Regions from separate parts of the Homo sapiens genome. Here regions 2, 3 and 4 are each linked to region 1. The links come from fine-mapping of genetic effects on plasma protein levels. A gene starts in region 1. Each other region holds a variant in brackets. All regions are shown on one strand. Distances are between the middles of the regions.

What was found. PIP is the chance, under the fine-mapping model, that this variant and not a neighbour inherited with it causes the effect. The UK Biobank Pharma Proteomics Project read protein levels with antibody pairs (Olink). The fine-mapping took linkage between variants from a reference panel, not from the people measured, so its PIPs are less certain.
Region 2: its variant is fine-mapped to the plasma level of the SMPDL3A protein (UK Biobank, PIP above 0.99).
Region 3: its variant is fine-mapped to the plasma level of the SMPDL3A protein (UK Biobank, PIP above 0.99). The variant lies in the coding sequence of SMPDL3A. If it changes the protein, the assay may bind it differently, which can mimic a change of level.
Region 4: its variant is fine-mapped to the plasma level of the SMPDL3A protein (UK Biobank, PIP 0.93).

What each region holds. Positions count from the first base shown.
Region 1 is chr6:122,788,163-122,790,849 of GRCh38, forward strand. It overlaps SMPDL3A (sphingomyelin phosphodiesterase acid like 3A), which reads left to right and starts at 1,096. Exons shown (of 8, transcript NM_006714.5): 1 at 1,096-1,296. The coding sequence starts at 1,185. RefSeq lists enhancers at 906-1,407, 1,408-1,907 and silencers at 1,122-1,416, 2,522-2,687.
Region 2 is chr6:122,800,166-122,802,852 of GRCh38, forward strand. SMPDL3A (sphingomyelin phosphodiesterase acid like 3A) reads left to right here. Exons shown (of 8, transcript NM_006714.5): 4 at 1,145-1,241. Among named protein-coding and RNA genes, the nearest start is that of SMPDL3A, 12 kb to the left of the region's middle. The variant T/C (reference allele first, on the strand shown) is at 1,081.
Region 3 is chr6:122,804,710-122,807,396 of GRCh38, forward strand. SMPDL3A (sphingomyelin phosphodiesterase acid like 3A) reads left to right here. Exons shown (of 8, transcript NM_006714.5): 6 at 200-380; 7 at 1,524-1,648. Among named protein-coding and RNA genes, the nearest start is that of SMPDL3A, 17 kb to the left of the region's middle. The variant G/A (reference allele first, on the strand shown) is at 1,549.
Region 4 is chr6:122,750,351-122,753,037 of GRCh38, forward strand. It overlaps a transcript of FABP7 not described here. Among named protein-coding and RNA genes, the nearest start is that of FABP7, 28 kb to the right of the region's middle. The variant C/T (reference allele first, on the strand shown) is at 1,378.

The DNA.
Region 1 (2,687 bases):
CTCTACTTATGATTTCCATGCATCTCTGGAATGCATAAAGCATGATTTCAGAACATGTTCTAATTCTAAGACCCTTCTCTTCCCGGCAGTTTAAAAAAAACAAAAAACAAAACGTCGTATCTTTGAGCATTGGTTTTCAAACATCACAATCACTTTAACATGACCTGAAATGCTTGTGAAAACACAAACTGCTGGGCTCCAGCAGGTTTCTGACTCAACAGGTCTAGGGTGGTGCCTGGGAATTTGCATTTCTAACTAGAGTTCCCAGGTGGTGCTAATGTTCCCAGTTCAGAGACTTCAATTCGAGATCCACTGCAGTATCCATAACTTTTGCTGATTTCCTTCAAATCATGATACTTCAGGGCTCTCTGCATCACCTCTACTGAGGAGCCCTACCCATTAAAGCTGGGGTAGGTTGGCCCAAGAATGGAACCGGGATCGTTGAGATTTCAGCACCCCAGCATTTTTTAGTGACTGAAATAATGAAAATTCTGATCAGGCTCCTGCTTGCTTGCACATTTTAACCACTCGCTTTTTGCCCAATATTCTCCTTGTTTCCACAATATAATTATAAACTGCTGAGGTACTGCTTCCTCGTCAAGAACAAAGAGGTTAACTTCAGGGTCACAAAAATGTTTGCAGAAGGGATGAATACCTCCAAGGGCTTTGCAACCAGCTGCGGATGCCTGGACGTCTAATTGCTCAAAGGTGTTATCTGAGACTGAAGAAACAGACTTTTCCCCTGGATTCTTTGAAAATCCCCCTCTCTTATTCTCTAGCAGAATAAAAACTCCCTGCTTTTTCCTTTTTACACACGGATTTGAGAGATCTTGTTCTCCCTCCTTCTGGCTTTTACTAAATTGAATGTCTTTCTCTATCCCCAAGCACCAGTATGTCAGTGTTTGACATCAACTGCACCACTGATACACGAGTCGGAATTTGAGCTTCTACAAGTACATTCCTTCCTAGGCCAAACACTGACGCTAAGAAATACGAGAACAGATCATCGCTAAACAGCAGCTGAAGGTCAGGCGAACTGACTCGCTGCGGAATCTGCCTTTGCACGTGATCAGTCGGACGTCTACACCCGCAGCCGTCTTCTGTCTCCGCCTCACCCTCAGGCCTGACGGTCCGAGTGGAGCTGCGGGACAGCCCGAACCTCCAGGTCAGCCCCGCGGCCCTCCATGGCGCTGGTGCGCGCACTCGTCTGCTGCCTGCTGACTGCCTGGCACTGCCGCTCCGGCCTCGGGCTGCCCGTGGCGCCCGCAGGCGGCAGGAATCCTCCTCCGGCGATAGGTGAGTTGTCCGCGACCCTTCTCTTCCCAGCCGGCAAAGAGCGCGGAGCGGCGGCGCCTGCGCACAGCAGGAGAAAGTGCGTGGGGGCAGCTGCCCCCGGCAGAGGCTCGGGCTAGCGGGGCCCCTGACGCGTCCGGCGTTGACCACGGCTGGTGGGCGCGGGGAGGGCGACCAAGGGACTACAGCGTTAGGGCGTCCAGCCGGGAGGCCGGGGCTGGGCGGGGGAAATGCCCTCGCCGGTGGGGGCGCTCCAAGGGCGCGTCGGCCGGATTTCGCCAGCCTGGCTTTTGTTTACATCCTGCATCTCAGTTGTTTTGTTCCTTGGGGAAGGAAGGAAAAGCTGCGGGACTCAAGGGAAGAGGAAGCTGGGAGTCCGATGTCCAGCACAGCAAGAGGCCCCTAATCGGTCCTGAATGGAGGGGGACTGCAGTTTCCCCACCAGCTCAGGGAAGTAAATTTCAGCGTGACTCACACTATCTTCTGTCTTGCTCGACCGAGATCAGTGGCTTTTTCTGCCACTCACCCAGCCAGAGCGCGAAAGCACCCTCGGGTAGACTCACCCCTTAGTCTACCGTGGAACTCACGGGGACTTCATTTCACCTGGATGTCCACTAGGTTTCCTGCGGGCGGGACCCATTTTATTCACTCCCAGCACTTAACACAGTGCCCGTTACAGTAGTGATTCTCTTAAGTGTGCCCTGGACCGGTGGCAGCAGCCGCCGCACTTAAAATTGTTAGCATTGCAAATTTCCAGCCCATCCCAGACCTACTGAATCTGAAACGCCGGCGTTGGGCTTCCACAGTATGCTGTTTAACCCACCCTCCGCATGATTCCTTTCGGCTAAGTTTGAGACTCACTGGTCCAGAATAGATACATTTTGGTGGGAGATTGTACAATGCCATCCGAGCCTCCAGTTCCAAAAATCAAGGTGCCCTCACCTCCTCAACTCCCTTTAAAAATAATTGCACTGTTAAGAGGAAAAACAAAATTAGAGAAGTGGGGTTCTGTTTTCTTTTAGGGGAGAGTTGTCCCTGAGACTCGGTAGCAGCACCTAGTGCTGAAACCTCTTTCGCTCCCTCTGTGCTTTCTCAGGACTTGGGAGCGCTCTAGGGCAAATATCTTCTCTTTGAAGGCCAAGTCCTCACGACTCAGCTGTCAGGTCTGAAGCAAAAACTGTAAATCTGGTTTCCGAACTGTGGCAAATGTCAGTCATTACAAGAAATTTCCCCAAAATGTTTATGTATACTGGTTTCTGCTTTTATTACGGCTTAGCTTGTGTTCCTTTAATTATGTGACCGGTTAGGGTTTTGAAATAAAATGTCTCACGTTGCTTGAGGCCACACAATGGCAAATTCACCTGTGTTTTAAAGAGGCCTGAATGAGCGCTTTC
Region 2 (2,687 bases), 12 kb after region 1:
TTGTTTTCCTCCAGGCGAGGCTCCCCATTTACTTCTACACTAGAGCTTATGTCATCCTGAAGATACTTTATGATAATAAAAATGTTTTGTACTTAAAATGTGTTATTTAAAAAATCAAAATATTTTGATATAATTTATGCTGCCCTAAAGAGACTTCTCCAAATCAAAAGCATGTGGTTGTAAATCTTTATTCAAAGAGTTAAGAAGCTTATAATAGTTTGAACAGTTCAGAAGACTTTGTTAAATTCTAAAACATGATGTTTTCCCGTTCCCTCGGCATGCTGCATCGGGCAGTGCATGTGCAGGCTCAAACCTGCCTTTGGCATCTCTTTAATGAGCACACTCCCACATCCTTCCCATATCCTAGCCATGCTAAAACATGAGCTTTTCTCTGTACATGGTACACACCTATGGAACTCTGTGCTTTTGCCTGTGCCTATGCCTATGCCTATGTTTGTATCTGGGCCATTGCATTTGCTTTGATGCCCTTTTGTTAAGTTGATAAAGTCCTTATTTAAGGCCTGGCTTAAATAGTCTCTTCACTCTCTAATTCCCTGGGCTACACCTTTTTTGTTTGTTTGTTTGTTTGTTTTTTTGTTTTTTGAGCCAGAGCCTCACTCAGTTGCCCAGGCTGAAGTGCAGTGGTGCGATCTTGGCTCACTGCAACCTTCGCCTCACGGATTCCAGTGATTTTCCTGCCTCAGCCTCCCAAGTAGCTATGATTATGGGTGCTCACCACCATGCCTGGGTAATTTTTGTGTTTGTAGTAGAGATGGGGTTTCACCATATTGGCCAGACACTTCTTGAACTTCTGACCTCAAGTGATCCGCCTGCCTTGGCCTCCCAAAGTGCTGGGATTATAGGCATGAGCCACTGCACCTGGCCCTTGGCTACACTTGATTGTTCTTGCTTCTAGGCTCCCCGGACCTCTGGGTAGTGCCCAGCACATTGTCTTATAGTTAATTGGTTACATTTTATCCCCCAGTCTCCAACTAAGTTATAATTCCTTGAAGATGAAGTCTATCTAATAATCATCCTTGCATCTCTAGATGCCTAACGTAGTAGTCAGTGCTCAAGTAG[T/C]GTTTACATTAATTCAGCTGTGTATCTTTAAATTTCAATGGTGGATTATATTGTTTGTGGCCAGGATCAACTGCCTGTAGTCACCAGTAAAGTGTACAATGCAGTAGCAAACCTCTGGAAACCATGGCTAGATGAAGAAGCTATTAGTACTTTAAGGAAAGGTAAGTGAAAGACTTAGTTATTCCTATTTTGCCTCAATTTTTATTCATGTTATTTAGACTTAAATTTTTAATGTTTGCTTGAGTGTGCCACTTCTGGAGCACAGCCCCCAGTTTTTGTGGAGGACAGTGAGTAGTAATGCTGCCTGTGACACAGGTCGTGAACCTGTTTATCTTGCAGGGAGCTCTTCCTGTTTTTCTTCTATTCTTTTTTCTTCTTCTACTCTTAATTAGGTAGGTATGTTCCCCATGGAGCAAAAGCTGAACTTTGGATTTGAATGTAAATAAAAGTGTATGTTTCTAATTGGAAAATTGATTGAGAAGAGAGAATGGACACTAACTTCTAACCAAGCAGCACAATTTTATAAAACAAAGAGCTGGTAAAGTGAGGATAACTAAGCTTTTAACATGGACTTTGAGGTGCTTGGGAAAGTAATGCATAATTAGTGCATAGTAAGGCCTTCCCTGGGTCATGTCTAAAGGCCCTCTGCTCCACTGGCTCTTGACACATCATTATGTAAATCCCTGACATTTTGTGAGCTTAACTGAGGTGTGCAGCTGTTAAACTAAGACTTTGGTGTTTTCAGAATGTTGAGACAAATATTAAGTTAATGGCTAGACTTCTCTCAGTTAAAATACTTCTTTCGGTATTTTTGTTAACCCTTTGGCTTTTGCCACTATTTTGTTATTGTTTTTGCTAGCATGCAGCAAATCATAGTATATATGAATTTGAGACATGATAGCTTAGAATTAGACTATGGTTCTGATTAATCTAGGGAACTATATCTAGTCTTTTTTTTTTTTTTTTTTTTATTAAGATGGAGTTCCACTCTTGTTGCCCAGGCTGGAGTGCAATGGCATGGTCTTGGCTCACAGCAACCTCTGCCTCCTGGTTTCAAGCGATTCTCCTGCTGCAGCCTCCTGAGTAGCTGGGATTACAGGCACCTGCCACCACACCTGGCTAATTTTTGTATTTTTAGTAGAGATAGGGTTTCACTATGTTGGTCAGGCTGGTCTCGGGCTTCTGACCTCAGGAGATCCACCTGCCTCAGCCTCCCAAAGTGCTGGGATTACAGGCATGAGCCACCGTGCCCGGCCTATGTCTAGTCTTACACTTCACATCCTACAAGACACGTGGAGAGCTTATGCAGGTTGAAGGGAGAGCCATAAAGAATGATCAAGATCCCTAAAGAAATGCTCTGCCTTCTAAGGAGACTCAGCATAAAGCAGGGGAGGCAGAAAAAAGCTGAGAAGTGGAATGCAGGCCCTAAGAAAAAGCCATATGAGTTTCATAATGATATCCATTCCAATGATAGCCCTCAAAGATCCAGTTAAACACTGGAGTATAATATTAAGTTAAAAATCATAGAAGCCATCCTGAGAAAGTCTTAAAGGCAAAAGTGATTTGGGGCAGAGATGTCTTGCATGAGGGGCCTCAAACTTTGTCAT
Region 3 (2,687 bases), 17 kb after region 1:
ATATCATCAACAGTGTACAAATATAGTGACCCTAATAGTTTTATAATTTCATCTCTTTTTCTTATAAATAGAAGAGATGATATATTTGCTTTCTAAATTTTAATTAATATACTTTCAATCTTGGGTATCCAAATGTCATTTAGTTATGATGAATGTGCAGAAAGATTCTCATGAGGCCTTTTTGTGTTTCTTTTTCCAGGTGTATATCATAGCACATGTTCCAGTGGGGTATCTGCCATCTTCACAGAACATCACAGCAATGAGAGAATACTATAATGAGAAATTGATAGATATTTTTCAAAAATACAGTGATGTCATTGCAGGACAATTTTATGGACACACTCACAGAGACAGCATTATGGTTCTTTCAGATAAAAAAGGTAATGTAATGCTGTGTTTGCATCTCCCCAGTCTAAGAGTCTAGAGCAAAGCGGTGAATATCCAGTAAATTTGCTGATTTAGTAAATTAAACGTTTTATTTAAAAATCTGCCAGCATTAGCCTTTTCTGAATTATCCTCAATGGTTGTATGATGAGTGTCCAAATCACAACATTAGGCCTGCAGCTGGATTTCTTCAACGTAAGCTCCTATTAGCTCCACAGGGCCAGCGTTACTTATTTGCTGTCAACACAAAAGCCTCAGAAACCCTCAGCTCACTCAAATGTTCTTTTAAATCTTCGAGTTTAAAGAAATATCACTCTATTTTAACTGCTACACTCAAGTTTCTTTTGATGCTACATGTTTTATTTCTCAGAATTTAGAAAGCAAAGCACAATTTACACAACGGCTTAAAATAAAATATATTAAGCTCTTACTTGCAAGTTCTTATTGATACATATATAAGCAGAGAGAATGATACAAACAAACCTCCTATGTACTCAACACTCACATTCAACATCTATCAAGATTTTTCAGTTTTTTTGTTTTGTTGTTGAGACGGAGCCTCGCTCTGTTGCCAGGCTGGAGCGCACCCTGCGATCTCGGCTCACTGCAACCTCTGCCTCCCTGGTTCAAGTGATTATCCTGCCTCAGCCTCCCGAGTAGCTGGGACTACATGTGTGTCACCACGCCCAGCTAATTTCACCATGTTGGCCAGGAAGGTCTCGATCTCTTGACCTAGTGATCTGCCCGCCTCGGCCTCCCAAAGTGCTGGGATTACAGGCATGAGCCACTGCACCTGGCCTTATATTCTTTTAATTTTTTGCTGGAGTATTTGAAAGTGAATCTCAAACACTGGATCCATTTTGGCACTACATATTCTATATTCATTGCTAAAATATATGGATAATTTACATAACCACAAACTTAGTTAACAAAATCAACAATAATTATCTGGTATCAATAACAAAAATGTCCCTATTTTCTCCAAATTGTCTCTTTACAGTTGTTTCAAGTCAGTATCCATTAGTGATCACATATCACTTGGTTATGTCTGTTAATCTCTTAATCTGGAAACTTTATATTTTTAATATAGTTAAACTCTTATTTAAAAATGTATGTTTATGTGCATACGTTTTGTTCAGGAAGTCCAGTAAATTCTTTGTTTGT[G/A]GCTCCTGCTGTTACACCAGTGAAGAGTGTTTTAGAAAAACAGACCAACAATCCTGGTATCAGACTGTTTCAGTATGATCCTCGTGATTATAAATTATTGGTAAGTTGGCAGATTTCAGAGCTGACCCCATATTTATGCATATCTTTGCAGTTTTCATTAATTTAGTTGAATTTTTCTCAGGACAGTCATGTGAGATGTATTTTATGTTGAAATCTCCTGGCATCCTTCTTCTTTTTTATACTTGCAATGTTATCAGGACTTACTAAGTGTGAGCTGATGAAGTTAGTCTTTGGAAGGCTGTTTCTGTTCTGTTCTTCTAAGGACTTCACATTTATTTAGATGCTTTCATTGGTTAGTGCCATGTTTGTGGACTTGTATACGTACTGAAATGTTTCACTAAGCCATGTTCATTCTTCTTCTCCAGAATATAAGTATCAAGAAGAGTGTAGGCTCTGTTACCATTCCCTCTCATGAGCCATTATTTCTAAACTTTTCTGTGTCCCAGTCTATTTCTCCATGAAATGGGAATTAAAATATTATTTAATTCACTGAGTTGCTATGAGGATTGCATGAACAAATCTATGTAAAGCACTTAGAAAAACGCTTGGCTCATACTAAATGCTTAATAAATGTTAACAAACAAGATTTTATTTTCAAGTTCTTGTTCTGTTACTCAGGCTGGAGTGTAGTGGTGCGATCATAGCTTACAGCAGCCTCAAACTCCTGGGCTCAAGTGATCCTCCCACCTCAGCTTCCCATGTAGGCGGGACTACAGGCATGTACCACCAAGCCCAGCTAATTTTTATAATCCTATTGTAGAGATGGGGGGGGGGGGTCTCCCTATGTTGCCCAGGCTGGTCTTGAACTCTTGGGCTCAAGTGATCCTCCCACATTGGCCTTCCAAATTGCTGGTATTACAGATGTGAGCCACTGGGCACACCCAAAAAATTTTTTTAAAGGAAAAAAATGGTAGCTCACGCCTGTAATCCCAGCACTTTGGGAGGCCGAGTTGGGTGGATCACGAGGTCAGGAAATCGAGACCATATTGGCTGACACGGTGAAACCCCGTCTCCACTAAAAATACAAAAAAGTTAGCTCGGCGTGGCGGCGGGTGCCTGTAGTCCCAGCTACTCGGGAG
Region 4 (2,687 bases), 38 kb before region 1:
TATTAATAATTATTATGAAATAATCATTTTGCTAAAATGAAAGCAAGAAAAACACATTTTATGTAATAAATAATAGATCAAAAATTAAACTTGTCTTTATTACTGATTTATACATTAATCATGCATCAACAGTACAACCAGACATGTGCAATAATAACTAAATTCATTTGTCTTTGATATCTTGCTAGTTTTCAGCCTTATGAAACCATAGTGTTTGTTACCCATGTCTTTGGATTTTTTCATTAGGAAAGTGTATTTGGCAAGGTAGGGAGATAAGACATATGTTTAATGGTATGTGAGCCTTATTTTTACCCTCCCCTGGGCCCCACTGCTGTTAAAGGAAGAACTAAACAAAGAAGACAAGAAACTTGGTCTAAACCGGAATGTTGTGTGATAATTTAAGGTGTTGATAAAAGCAGACTTTAGTCTCAGGCAAAGCCAGTGAAGAGAGAAAACTGAAGTCAGGAGTTAGCTGATGAGTGGAAGAATAAGGGAAAGTTGAGAGACTACGCTGAAAAGTTCGGATTTTGAAGCTTTGCCTGTTCTTTTGGACTGCTTGAGTTACTCTGACTTTTTCTGTGTTTTCATGCCAATTATGCTGTTATTTTCAGTCTTTATTAGCTGGTTTATATATCACCTCATAATTCCCAATAGATATCTTTAGTGGGTTCACATGTCTGTGTGAAAATTTAGGTATGCAATAAAATCATATGTATTATGAATAAATAAATATGTGTGCTTAAATTTTTTTCTTTGAGTTCTCTAGTCTAGAAGGTATCATAAAATTGTTGTCAATTAGTTCCACTTACTCTAAATTAATTCAGAATTTTTATTCTTAACCTCTGCATGCCTGTTTTCTCATCCATAAAGTGAGTACTATAGTGGTATTTACATCATAGGGTGGTTGTGAGAATTAAGTGTGTTAATATACGTAAACTACACAGAATATGTAAACTACATGCCTGGTCCCTACATAAATGTGTGCTTCTATTCTTACTGCCTCATCCTTCCTGTTGTCCCTATATTGCAGGTGATGGTGATGGGCTGTGAGGAAGCCAGGTACTGTGGGTGCATCTTGTCCTCAATTTTCACCATCTATGCATGCAGGCATCTATGCCGAGAAGTCTTCCTTTAAAGCTTCCACATAGTTACTACCACATCCTGTCTAAAAGACCCTTCTGGTTTCACTTTACACTTAGTTATTTTCACTTTTTTTGAGCACATAAGAAACATTCAGCTCGGAAATTCTGTGTCAGAGACATCTATTTAAATAATGCAAATGGCACATTCTATTATTATGCTCTGCTATGCTGCAGAACTCAACAAAGCTTTCCACCTTCCACTCCACCTGGGAACTGAGGTACAAACGCTTCAACC[C/T]TCATATCCTTCCAAATTTAAGAAGGATTTCTACCTTGTACACCTATTTCAGCACTCAGCCTGAGGAAGGGAAGCCGGCAAAGGAATCTGGGGCTCCTCAGGGCCTTGCTAGCTCCCAGGCTCTCTTGCTTCCTCCCCATCTCCCTCCTTGCTTTCCTCTCATCCCTCTGCCCCAACCCAGGTCATCTTTATTTCCTACAGATCTTATAAAACCTGAGCTGGAGGACTGGCTCTTATGTCAGCAGACATTCTCTCAGGCCCATTGTTTATATCCCTGGGTCCCCAAACCCAAATGCTTTGACTTCTGTAACTGAAAAACCACCACCCACCCCAGCTTTCCACCCCTAACCCCACCACCATCTCCCAATTTTCTTTGTTAGCAAACCTCCCCTAGCAACTTTTCTAATGTACTAATTTGATTGAGGAAAAGGCAAAGGAGCAAATATAAAAAAATCAATGATTTATATTTCAAAATGTTATTTTGTTCTAGTAACTCTGTGTTCTGAGGAAGAAAATTGACTTCTCATTTAGATGTGTTCATCCTTGCCTGCAATCTTTAAAAGGGTGAGAATTAGTTTTCTGTACAGAATCTATTTCACAAAAATAGTAAGTCCCTCAATCATGCATGCATGCACTCTGTGGTTCTATGGGTAATATTTCCTAACCCCTCTGCAGGGTTAAACCTAAATAGTGGGTTACATCTGCAATCTCTTTGGCTAGAATTGTCAACATTTTATATATAGGGGATTTCTTTCCTCTAAATGTTGGCCTAAGCCATTCCCACCCCCAACCTTACCCTCCTGGAGATATTGGCATGATGCTGGCTGAATTTCTCCTTTATGAATAAGCTCTGAGGAAACTTCTTGCATAAGGGGTGAAGAGTTGGTTTTTCTATAGATAGAATCTCTTGGACCTTTGTCTAAGCTAGTACACTTCTGAAAGTGAAAGGGGACACTTAATAATTATGCCAGGACACCATGGGTGAATTTGGATAGTCTCCAGCGAAGTAAGCCTTGTGGCTCTATTTAGAGTTTACAGACAGTGTAGTCTGTTTCCCAACCCAAAATTTTAGCCATCTCTACCCCCTCTACATTGTTATTGCCTAGTCTTTTGCCATCACCTGCTTAGTTCAAGAAAGTTATTAGTCAAGCTGAGGCTTGCATAGGGTTAGTGGTCTCTCTCTGGTTTGTTGAGTCCACTAACTAAGCCTGTGTTGTTTCCATTGTTTTTTGCTGTGGTTTCTTTAAGAGTCCCAGCTAAAGACAAAATGCCATTTTCATAAAGGCAAAGCAAAAGAAAGATGCTTACTC